Regions from separate parts of the Homo sapiens genome. Here region 2 is linked to region 1. The links come from fine-mapping of genetic effects on gene expression. A gene starts in region 1. The other region holds a variant in brackets. All regions are shown on one strand. Distances are between the middles of the regions.

Region 1 (5,390 bases):
AAGAGACTGGTGTAATATTATGAAGATGGTCCTTGGGAAGAGAAGTTGGTACCAGACTCTGAAGGGCTCTGTAAATAAAAAGCAAAGCTAAGAAATTTGAATTATATATGGTAGACAATGAGAAGCCATCAGAGATACTTATGGAGCAACATCTGGAGGGAGACTGAAGAGAGGCAAGAAATATTACTTTTTTAAAAAAGCATAAACTTTTGAGTTAAATCTAATTTCCGACTTCAGTTCCAACGTGTTACTAGTTGTGTGAGAACAAATTACCGAGCCCCTCTTAGCCTGTTTTCTTATTTGAAGATAGTAACTACCTCAGCGATATTGTAAAGATTAATGAGAGAATGTATGTGATGCGGTTTTTACAGTTTAGTAACTCAATGTAATTGGAGACTTATGTATCATTTGCTATGTGGCACACACTATTTTAAGGTCTTTGTATATATTAACTCATTCAATCCTCACAATAATCCTACAAAGTAGGTAACCTCATCATACGGTAGAGGGAAATGAAGCAGAGAGGTTAAACAGCTTGCCCAGGGTCACCTAGCTATCAAGTGGTGGAGATGGGCTTCAAACCAAGGCAATCTGGCCCCAGTTCCATGTCTTTAATCAACACATTATAATGCCTTTCTAGGAAAGATCAAATCAGTGTTTTGAAAACTCACAGTATTTTCTAACCTTTCAGTTAAATATGCAGACTGTTCAATGCCATCCTCCAGACCTACTGATTCAGAATCTGAGATCTGAAGTGCAGGAATCAGCATTGTTGAACAAATCCTTCAAGGTAGTGTATACACAATAAATTCTGAAACTCACTGATTTAAGAAAGAGCAAAAATCCAATGAAAATAATTCAGGTAGAAAAAAATAAAGAGATTAGGATATAGCGATCAATTTTTAAAAATTACCATTTGTTGACAGCACATATGAAATGAGCAGAAAGGCTTAGAGAAGTATAGCCAATGTCTCTGTTACAAAGACACTATATGAAAAATGCTCATATTTTAACTATCCTAAACACCGAGTATTTAAGTCTATTCTTCCTGGCTAACACTTAAAAGTTCAATAGCAGGAAGAATGGGGGTGCTGGAATAGCCAGCACTGGATGAAGGAATGTTTTTATTCTGATTATTATGAAGTCCTACTTTTAAAAATATATTTATACATTTAAATGGTACAATATCCTGGTGTTAAAACCTTAAAAGGAACTTAAAATATCTTTTCGTATTAAGCTACACAAAACTGACGATTTTTAATAAAGATGTAAAACTTGTACACATTTAAAGTTCCCATTTATAGTTTACATTTATGGCACACTTTTAAACCATTCCAGAAGGCATGACTTTACTACTGGGTTAGACAGAGTTCCATATTTCAGATAGTTCATCATTAAAAATTAAAAAAAAAAAAGCCCAAAACAATAAAACCCAAAGAAACAGATGCTCAAAGCATTAGTGGATTACTTCCAAAAAGACTCCATAATAACCCAGTTGGCCAATGAATGAGGGAGGCGAAAAGGCAGGGCGGTGGAACTAAACCTTATCCCTATTGTTTGCAAACTAAGACCCTAGTTAATCACCACCGCTGTTACCACAGCCGGTTTAAATAGGAGTCTCGGATTTTTGCGGTACATGAAAAATGTCAACCGTGAAAGAAAAATATCCGGGTTTTAAATACAAAGGACACTCGAATTTCAGTTTAAATCCCACTCAGGCATTTCAAAGACTGTCACTTCCCTGCAGTCCAGAGTTAATCAAGGTTGCCCGGGTATCTCTCTCAGGAGGAACGCGGAGCCACGTAGAGCATCTTTTCATTCTAAACCCGCCCCAACCTTCCATCTTTCATTAAAAGAGATTTGTTTAAACGTGGCAACGCCTTCACAGTGAGATTTAACTACTGTTAAAATTTCAGCATTCGAGCCGAATTGGTGGAAATAATAAACTACGGGTTTAAAAAAAGCCACGGAGGATGCGTATAAACAAGGTTTACTCGCGGGGGACCGGCAGGGCCTCCGAATCCTCAACACTGAGAGCTGGCTGGCGTGCGCAACCGTCGAGAGCGCTGGTCCAGCAAACGCCCCCAGTGCCCCGAATTCCCTTAGTCTCCAGGCCGGGCCCCAGCACCAGACGTCCCCAAAAGCACTGCGAGGCCCCGGCTGCGACGTCCGGCCTCCTGACACCCTCTCCCACCCCACGGTCCTGCTTCTCTCTCTGGAACGTTCTGCGTCTTCCCGTTCCCCATTTACTCACCAAGGAGAGCTGGGCAGAAGTTCCAGAGCCTCAGTGCCACTTTTCCCGGCCCGCTGTACGTCGGGGCACGCCGACCGCGAGCAGCCACATTCAACGGCCCACAGGATTCAAATTCGTCCACTTCCGCTCGCAAACCCGGAAAGAGCGGTCGGCCCCGCCCTCGAGGGGTGGGACCCGCGGAGGCGCTGGCTGTGGGGAAGGGCCCGTGTGCTCCCGCCCTTCTGGCGCTCCTGCGCTGCTGCTCGGTGCTAACCTGGCTGTGTCGCCTTCGCTTGTTTGTTTTGTCGGGTCTCTCTCCCTATTTAGGAGCTCAGAAAAACTCCGGGCGCGGGGTCATTGTTTCCGCCTATTTGCTCTTGAGGGGATCCTCTTTTTTCCAAAATGGACAGAGATGTGCTGAAGTTTCGTCACCTTCGAGGAATGGGGCGAATGAAAGCACGAACGGAGGCAGGAGGGTTTTATCTTTCCCTTCATCCTCGAGGAAACAGCAGCAGCAGCAAGAAGGAAAAAAACAAACCCTCCAAGTACTTAGTGCAGCCTTTCCTGGGCCTCTCAGTCCTATCCCGGCACAGTCAGGGCTTTTAATTTATTTCTGTCCTGGGTTTAGGGAAAACAAAAAGCCAAGTTCACCCGTATTCAGCCAAAAGTTGAAAATAAGTGGTCGGACCAATTCCTGGTCTCAAATAAACTATTTGATGGTGTTAGAAGGCAATAAATTTTATTTCCCCCCTCAGATAAGGGCTCACTTTACGAGATTATTAAGTATTGTCCCGTGAGATTATTGAAACAACAGTATCTTTTCCTTTATCGAGGACCACAGTATGTCTTTGATCCAAAACGTCTTAAGCTTCTGAAGAGACATCTGGGAGCTTCCAGAAACTAAAGGAAGGACTGGAAATGCTAGGGGGTGAGGGGCGCTAAATAACTCTGACCTTTATGGCTGTGATTGATGTTGCCACCAGATCATCCTCACATCTAATAACATTGAATTACCTAAACGGATCAGTACAAACCAAACCATGACAGCATACCTTTAGCCTTTGTCAAAAATACAGTTTGAGGGCCGGGCGCGGTGGCTCACGCCTGTAATCCCAGCACTTTGGTAGGCCGAGGCGGGTGGATCACGAGGTCAGGAGATCGAGACCATCCTGGCTAACATGGTGAAACCCCGTCTCTACTAAATGTACAAAAAATTAGCTGGGCGTGATGGCAGGCGCCTGTAGTCCCAGCTACTCGGGAGGCTGAGGCAGGAGAATGGTGTGAACCCGGGAGACGGAGCTTGCAGTGAGCAGAAATTGCGCCACTGCACTCCAGCCTGGGCGACAGAGCGAGGCTCTGTCTCAAAAAAAAAAAAAAAAAAAAAAAAAAAATACAGTTTGAAAGGTTTACTAGATTTCTGAGAACCTATGCTACAGGTAATCTGACACAGGGGGTGTGTAAAGCTATTAACTGATGTACTGTTTTTAACAGTGGAAGATAGAAAATAATCTGTGTCTACAAATAAGGAAGGGGTTAAATACATGTAAGTTATGATACTTTAGCATCTGATATACTGACGCTGCGGGCACTAAAAGTAATGAAGTAGATCAGCGGGTACTGAAATGAAATACTGAAAAAGTTTAAGAAGGACTGTAGTATCCTTGTTTGAAAGTATGTGTGTGTATATGGTATACAAAGTTTTGGGATGGATACCTAAGCTGTAAACATCTCTGGGAGCGGGCTGGTAAATAAGAGTAGGAAGAGATGGAGAACTTTTACCTTTCACTTTATCACCAGTTGAATTTTTAAGATAATAAACTTTTTTTTTAATTTTGCAATTTTGTTCTTTAAGGAAGATTGCTAGAAATTGAATACATTCTAGATACAAAATCAGGTTTAATGAGCGTATAAATTTCTAATGTTTGGATAGTCTATGTCCATTCATTCATTCAACAGTTCTTTCTACAATTACATATAATGATTTGACCACACATTTTGTCATTCATGATATAGTGTATTATTTTATGTTTACATATCTAATATGACCCCGTTAAATATATTGCTCCTTGAAGTTTCTTGAAGGCAGAAACTATGTTATATATTTTCCTATGTCTTTCATAATTCTTGGCACCTTCCCACCATTCTTATCCTTCACAGGAATTAAATTCTCAAGTTGACCTGTATACAAAAGTTAAAAATGCCCTGGAAAAGCCACCCAAAAGATTATATATATATATATGATTTTCTTTATACAACTCTATGAGCAAGGTTTTGTGTTTTTTTTTTTTTTTTTCAGTTTGTCCCCTGAGTTCTCCTTGGTCAGTTCTTCTCTACAACCCTTAATTAATTCTTCAATTTCTTCCGCTAAAATGTTGTCAAAGTCATTATCACCCCGCAGCCTGGCCATCACTTGGAATAATGAGATTCAGTTCTCATCAGTGGTGGAGAGCCCTGTAAAGTCATTCACATTTTTTTCCATAAGATTAGCCAGGCTTAATTGTATTAATTGTCTAGGGTTGGTGTTCACTGAATGGACTATCTGGTTATCTGTACTAATTAAAATGTTGTTCTTTTTTTTTCACCCAGAGTGAGTATAGGTGATTTTGAATACAAACAATATTCAAGTAATGTTACAGCATTTTGTGAACAAAAAAGATCTTCAATAAATACCCACTGACTAAATCAAAGAGCCTGAGTACATACAACTTAAGGACTTCTTTGAGACGGAGTCTCTCTCTGTCGCCCAGGCTGGAATGCAGTGGCGTGATCTCTGCTCACTGCAAGCTCCGCCTCCTGAGTTTATGCCATTCTCCTGCCTCAGCCTCCCAAAGTGCTGGGATTACAGGCGTGAGCCACCGCGCCCGGCCACAATTTAAGGACTTTTGAAAGAAAATATTCATTGCAGGACGTACTTAAATCTAACAAACCTGGCCATCAGACCAGGCATTCTGAGAGCTTATAAACATTTTAAATTGAGTGAAATTGATATAAGTATTCCACTTAATACATGCTGCAAAAAATGAAGAATAAAATTAAGAATTTTATTCAGTCTCTGATAATCCCTCAGTAATGTGAACTAGCTGAGAACTGAATTCTTAGAAAATTTTAGTCATAGCTAATGTAACCTCTCTTTCCTGCTTTCCTCTTCCTATTCAAT
Region 2 (5,390 bases), 150 kb before region 1:
CCTGACCTTGTCTCAGAAAAAAAGAAAAAGAAAAAAATAACTTATTAAACCACAAATAAAGATTAAGTATATAAAATACCACAAGCAAACATTATAAGAAAGAAAAGTGTGGAGGAAAGAAAAGATCTTGTTTTTTTCTGAATACAGGTAAATAAACAATATTCAGGTCTGAATAACTGATTCTTTTGATTTGGCCTTTAAAACCCTTCTCACTGCAAACTGAGTTTCTGTGTAAAATATTATCTCAGTTTTGCCTTAAAATATTCCAGTAAAAGTAAATAAAAAACACAAATGGGATAGATGAAACAAGAATGGATACTGACTTAATTGAAGGATTCAGGAGAGTTTGATAATGCATATTTGAAAATTTCCAAAATTAAAAGTAAAAAACAAATCTTTTGAAAAGATACCAAATTAATAATGACTGAAGCAGAATATCTATATATTAGAATAGAAAAATCACAGAAACAAAAAAGTCATTTAAAAGTGTCCTATATACAAAATGAAGGACTAAAAGAAAGAAAATGCGAAATCGAGGTACAATTTTATTATCCCCAAATATAAATTCTATTTAAAATATTTTGTTTAGTCCAATTTACATAGGACTTTAGATATGAAGTTCATTAGCTTATTAATATTCTCTGATTATATGTTAAAAGAAATGATATTCATTATGTAACAGTTCACTATTCTAAATAGGTTAGGTTCATTCTTTCAATTAACGTACTTTCAACAACCTGATGGTAAATACAAATCAAAATGTAAGTAAAGTCCAAATCCAAATGAACAATTTTTTTTTAAAAAAGTATAAAATTACAGAGCTCTGAGCTACACATGTAAAAAATACCCTCAGAGTCTTAAATACACTAATAAAGAACTCCTTGATTTCTAACTCAGGAACAGAAAACCAAATACCACATGGGAGCTCAACAATGAGAACACATGGACACAGGGAGAGGAACAACACACATCGGGGCCTGTAGGAGGCCGGGAGAGCAATAGGGAAGTGAGCTAATGGATGCTGGGCTTAATACCTAGGTGATGGGCTGATCTGTGCAGCAAACCACCAAGGCACACATTTACCTATGTAACAAACCAGCACACCCTGCACATGTACCCCAGAACTTAAAAAAAAAGGAACTCCTTGATTTTATGATTCCTATTTATTACTTGAATAAATCCAGGAGTTGCTTTACCTGAGCAGTTAGCCTGTCAACATTTATGTTTAAAAGTTACCAGTATGTTTTCTAACAAGTGTACTTACTTGCTGTTTCAAAACCAGGTTCTTCACTCCTTCCATCACAAACTGTGATCCTGTATTCATGACTCGTGATAAAAGACTAGGTAGGGGCAAAAGAGAAGGACCATTCTAAGTACAAAGTGCCTCTCCAATCTGTTATCGATAAAATATTTACCTGATTACACACCACATGCTGATGCTCGCTGTACCTACCACCTTTGTTTTCACTAAACAGAAGGGTCTTGAGAATTTCTGCTGCCATGGGTATCACAGCTGCAATTTTATTTAACAATAAAATAGTAATTAAAATACTCTGATTAGTCAATAATTATTAAAAAATACAAAAATAAAGAGCTGCCCTCAAAATAAACATCTTAATTTCCTAGTCTTAGCTATATTTTTTTTTTGCGAGTTATAATTTGAAGAGAATTCCTTGCCTTCCTGATTGTCTAATGCTAAAAAAAACCAATTTAAAGCTAGTAACTTGGACAATTTGCTTTAGGAGTTCAAACCATATGAACATATTGAAAATATATATGCAAGTATTACGAGTAAGTCAAACATTACTGTGTTCTCTTTTATCAGCAGCTGGATCCAATTCTACATTGTATATTTTCTCTCCTCTCTATACATAAAATCTATCATAAAAAAATGTGAAACAGAACAGACTTAGCGAATTTTGCCTCAACTCTGAGAATGTTGTCTACATTTTAAACAACAACAACAAAACACCAATAAGTGACTTGCCATACTGGGTTTATATCTGTGGTTCAAACAGTCTCTCACATGGAATTAAAAGATGTTTTGTGGGACAGATTAGTAATCCTGCATTAAAATCTCAGAAGGCTAGGGACAGCTTTCAGATCACCCAAGAGCTTCTTATAACATATTTATCAAAATCCCAATTGTAAAATCATAAGAACTCTAATAGGCTAATGTTCAATAAGATTTTTAAGGGATGAAACTGAAAAGTCTATTTTATTAAACACATGGAAGTAATTTTCCAAAAATATTTTCCTTTTCCTCATCTTGCCTTACTCCCCTCTGAAATGAAGAGATGGACAGGATGGAAATCTTTTCATTAACAGAAGCAAGAGAAAGTAATCCTTGTTGGAATGAATGGCCCTGGAGCGATTCCTGTCACCAGGCAACTCTGTGGGGGTGTGCTAACCTGCGCAGCACTGTCTGAAGGTGAGGCCAGCTGGATTCCTTTTGCCAAGTACTTATAAGGCTGAGTGCTTTTGTTTTTGGAAATTATTTCATTAAAACCAGTTACTCAGTGTGGGGCTAGGATAAACCTGTTCTCCTCTGGCTTCCTGCTTTTGTTTTAGCTCTAAAAAGTAAGCTAGGAATTGGAAACTGTATGGTACCAAAAAGAGTAGTCAGAATTACCTTGTTCAGTTTCTCTGAAAATCACACATACTCCACTGGGGTCTCTGGAGTAAGATGTCATACCTAGCCCTGAGGACTTCCTATCATTTAGCACTGCTTGAATCTATCCTGAAGCCAGGCCTAGCTTCAAGTCTATATTAGTTATCAACATTGGTA[C/T]TAAAACAGTTTTAACCTTCAAATGTTTTCTGAAAATGAAAACTATGTTATAATAACAAACAAGCATATGAATAAAAACCATCGAGAAGACAATATTTGTTGTAGAAAATTTGGAAAATAAAGAAAAGTACCCCAAAGAAAAAAACTATACCCCTTGGAATTACCCACTATTAACATTTAGGTGTATATCATTTCAGCTATGCAATTAAATGTATGTATGTGTTTACTCATCCACACAGATACACACAGATGGATAAATGGATAAATAGGGATGATACTATAAAAAATGTTATCTAAGTTTCAGCTCATACCATGTAAAAGACATTAACTTACATTTTAAAGTGAGAATCTGAATGTGCCCAACACTAAAAAATGATAAATGTTTGAGGTGATATGCTAATTACTCTGATTGGATAATTACACATGGTATGTATTAGCACACTGTACCCCATAAATATGTACAATTATTAAATGTCAATGAAAAATAAGTTAAAAAATAGAAAAAAAAAACCAGGAGAACTTCAGCCATCTAAATGTCACCAAAGGCATGGTGACATTTTCCGCATTCAAAGTATCAGACATTGTGTTTTTAAGGCATGAAAGTCTAAGTAAGGTTTTGAGTACAAAGATGCAAAAGAATTATTAAAAATACTTACCCCATTGGTTTAGTGGTAGTGCTGCCATAGCTGGCCGGAGCTGAGGCCATCTTGGTAAAAGCCCTATGAAAGAAGGAAGTTGTACTTAAAAGCTAATTATTAGAACTAACTCTGGGTGTCACGGTATTAAAATATCTACTGACTAACTCTAACTTCTATGATGCAGACATTTTCTGAAAAGAGAATTTTTCAACGAATACAAGTACACTACAATTAGTACTAAAACACTGAATTATTATTATTATTTTTTGAGACAAGATCTCACTCTGTCACCCAGGCTGGAATGCAGTGGTGCCATCATGGCTCACTGCAGCCTTGACCTCCCAGGCTCAAGTGATCCTCCCAACTTGGCCTCCCAAAGTGCTGGGATTACAGGTGTGAGCCACTGCGCCCAGCCTGAAATTCTTAAAGAAGCACAAATGCATTAGTTTTCCAAACTTCCTATTTTTCTTCATTTCTATCTGATCATTTAAATAAAAAGAACTGATGTAGAGACTTGATGGCTTAAAAGAACAACCATGTAATAATTTAGTCTTTTTATTGTTTCCTACATTCTATGCTCCCTTGTTTCCAGGTACATGCCTTTGCTCATGCTGTCCTTTAGGGAGTATAAATTCACTACCTTCTTCAATAGAAACTGTACATTTCCTTTTAAGACTAAGTTCAAAACCACTTTCTTTGTTAACACTTCTAACTCTACCACTCAATGATTTTTCCCTTTAGTTATATTATATACCACAGATTTTACACTTAATTGCATACAGTTGTTTATTTTCAACTCTTTCTAAATGTCCAGAATCTCTGTAACTAAACAATACGATTGATGAAGGATGGGCAGAAAGATGGCATTTAGATGTGCCTTAAAAAATATTTTTATTCTGAGAGTATTTTCACTGTAGAGAATCCAGAAAATATAAAATGCTCCCAGAAGAATCCTACCACTTTGAGGTAACCCCTGTTAAGATGTTGGTGTATAGTCTTCTAATCTTAGGACATATGCCTATTTAACATATATGATTTAAAAACCAAAATTAGCATCATATTGTATACACTGTTTTATAACACATTTTAGTGGCACACCATAGACATTTTATGCCAGTCAGTATTCTTTCATAATGATTCTTATTTTAAATGCTTTGTAACTGGGAAAAAAAGAGTACCTAAAGAAAATTTTATAAGGGAAAAAAATGTAAATCACTAAGATGTGGTAGTAGAAATGCTAAAAATATTCAATTTCAATCTTGACAAAATGTGCCAACAATACCCTTAGAGAAATCCCAAACAAAAATTTCAGTCTTGTTCAGAAAGGATGATGTGAATCAGCAGTGGATTAGAATTTCTGCATTAACAACAACAACAAAAAATAGTTTTTCACTAGAAACAATATCTAAACAACAAAGAAGGGTTAAATAAATAACAGTATATTTATATGATTTAATATTAGGCAAACAGTAAATACTTCCATGAACTGGCATGATGAAAGTTATTAAGAACTAGAATACAAAACTGTATCTCTAAAAATGATTTCCCAGTTTTAAAAAATATCTGGCTGGGTGCAGTGGTGCACACCTGTAGTCCTAGCTACTAAGGAGGCTGAAATGGAAGGATCATGAGCCCAGGACTGTGAGGTTACAGTGAGCTATGATTGTATCACTGCACTCCAGCCTGAGTGGCAGAGCAAGACCTTGTCTCTAGAAAAAAAATCTGTCATATGTATAAACAATGAAAGAATATACACTAATGTTTACTTGTAGTGCAGACATGATGCCACAATGAGAAAATTCCACACTGACCTCTTGTCAGGTTGCAGTCCAAATGCACAACTTAAGAATATTGATAAAATTACCTTTAGGCTATGCATATGAGACAATAATTGATTTTTTGTTTAGACTTGGGTCCCATCCCCAAGATATCTCATTATTTATATATATATATATATATATATA

Direction of the effects. Positions count from the first base shown, and alleles are read on the strand shown. Sizes are in standard deviations (SD) of each study's normalised expression.
For the expression in CD4 T cells of the gene that starts at base 2,369 in region 1, allele T in region 2 goes with a lower level than allele C (large effect, 1.5 SD a copy in CEDAR).

Evidence for each region. PIP is the estimated chance that this variant, and not a neighbour inherited with it, causes the effect.
Region 2: its variant is the best candidate, but not a certain one, in a credible set for the expression of G2E3 in CD4 T cells (CEDAR, PIP 0.75).

What each region holds. Positions count from the first base shown.
Region 1 is chr14:30,556,137-30,561,526 of GRCh38, reverse strand. It overlaps G2E3 (G2/M-phase specific E3 ubiquitin protein ligase), which reads right to left and starts at 2,369. Exons shown (of 15, transcript NM_017769.5): 1 at 2,255-2,369. It overlaps G2E3-AS1 (G2E3 antisense RNA 1), which reads left to right. Exons shown (of 4, transcript NR_151720.1): 3 at 692-790. RefSeq lists an enhancer at 2,514-2,703.
Region 2 is chr14:30,703,940-30,709,329 of GRCh38, reverse strand. It overlaps SCFD1 (sec1 family domain containing 1), which reads right to left. Exons shown (of 25, transcript NM_016106.4): 18 at 3,445-3,507; 19 at 1,265-1,340. Among named protein-coding and RNA genes, the nearest start is that of SCFD1, 84 kb to the right of the region's middle. The variant C/T (reference allele first, on the strand shown) is at 2,789.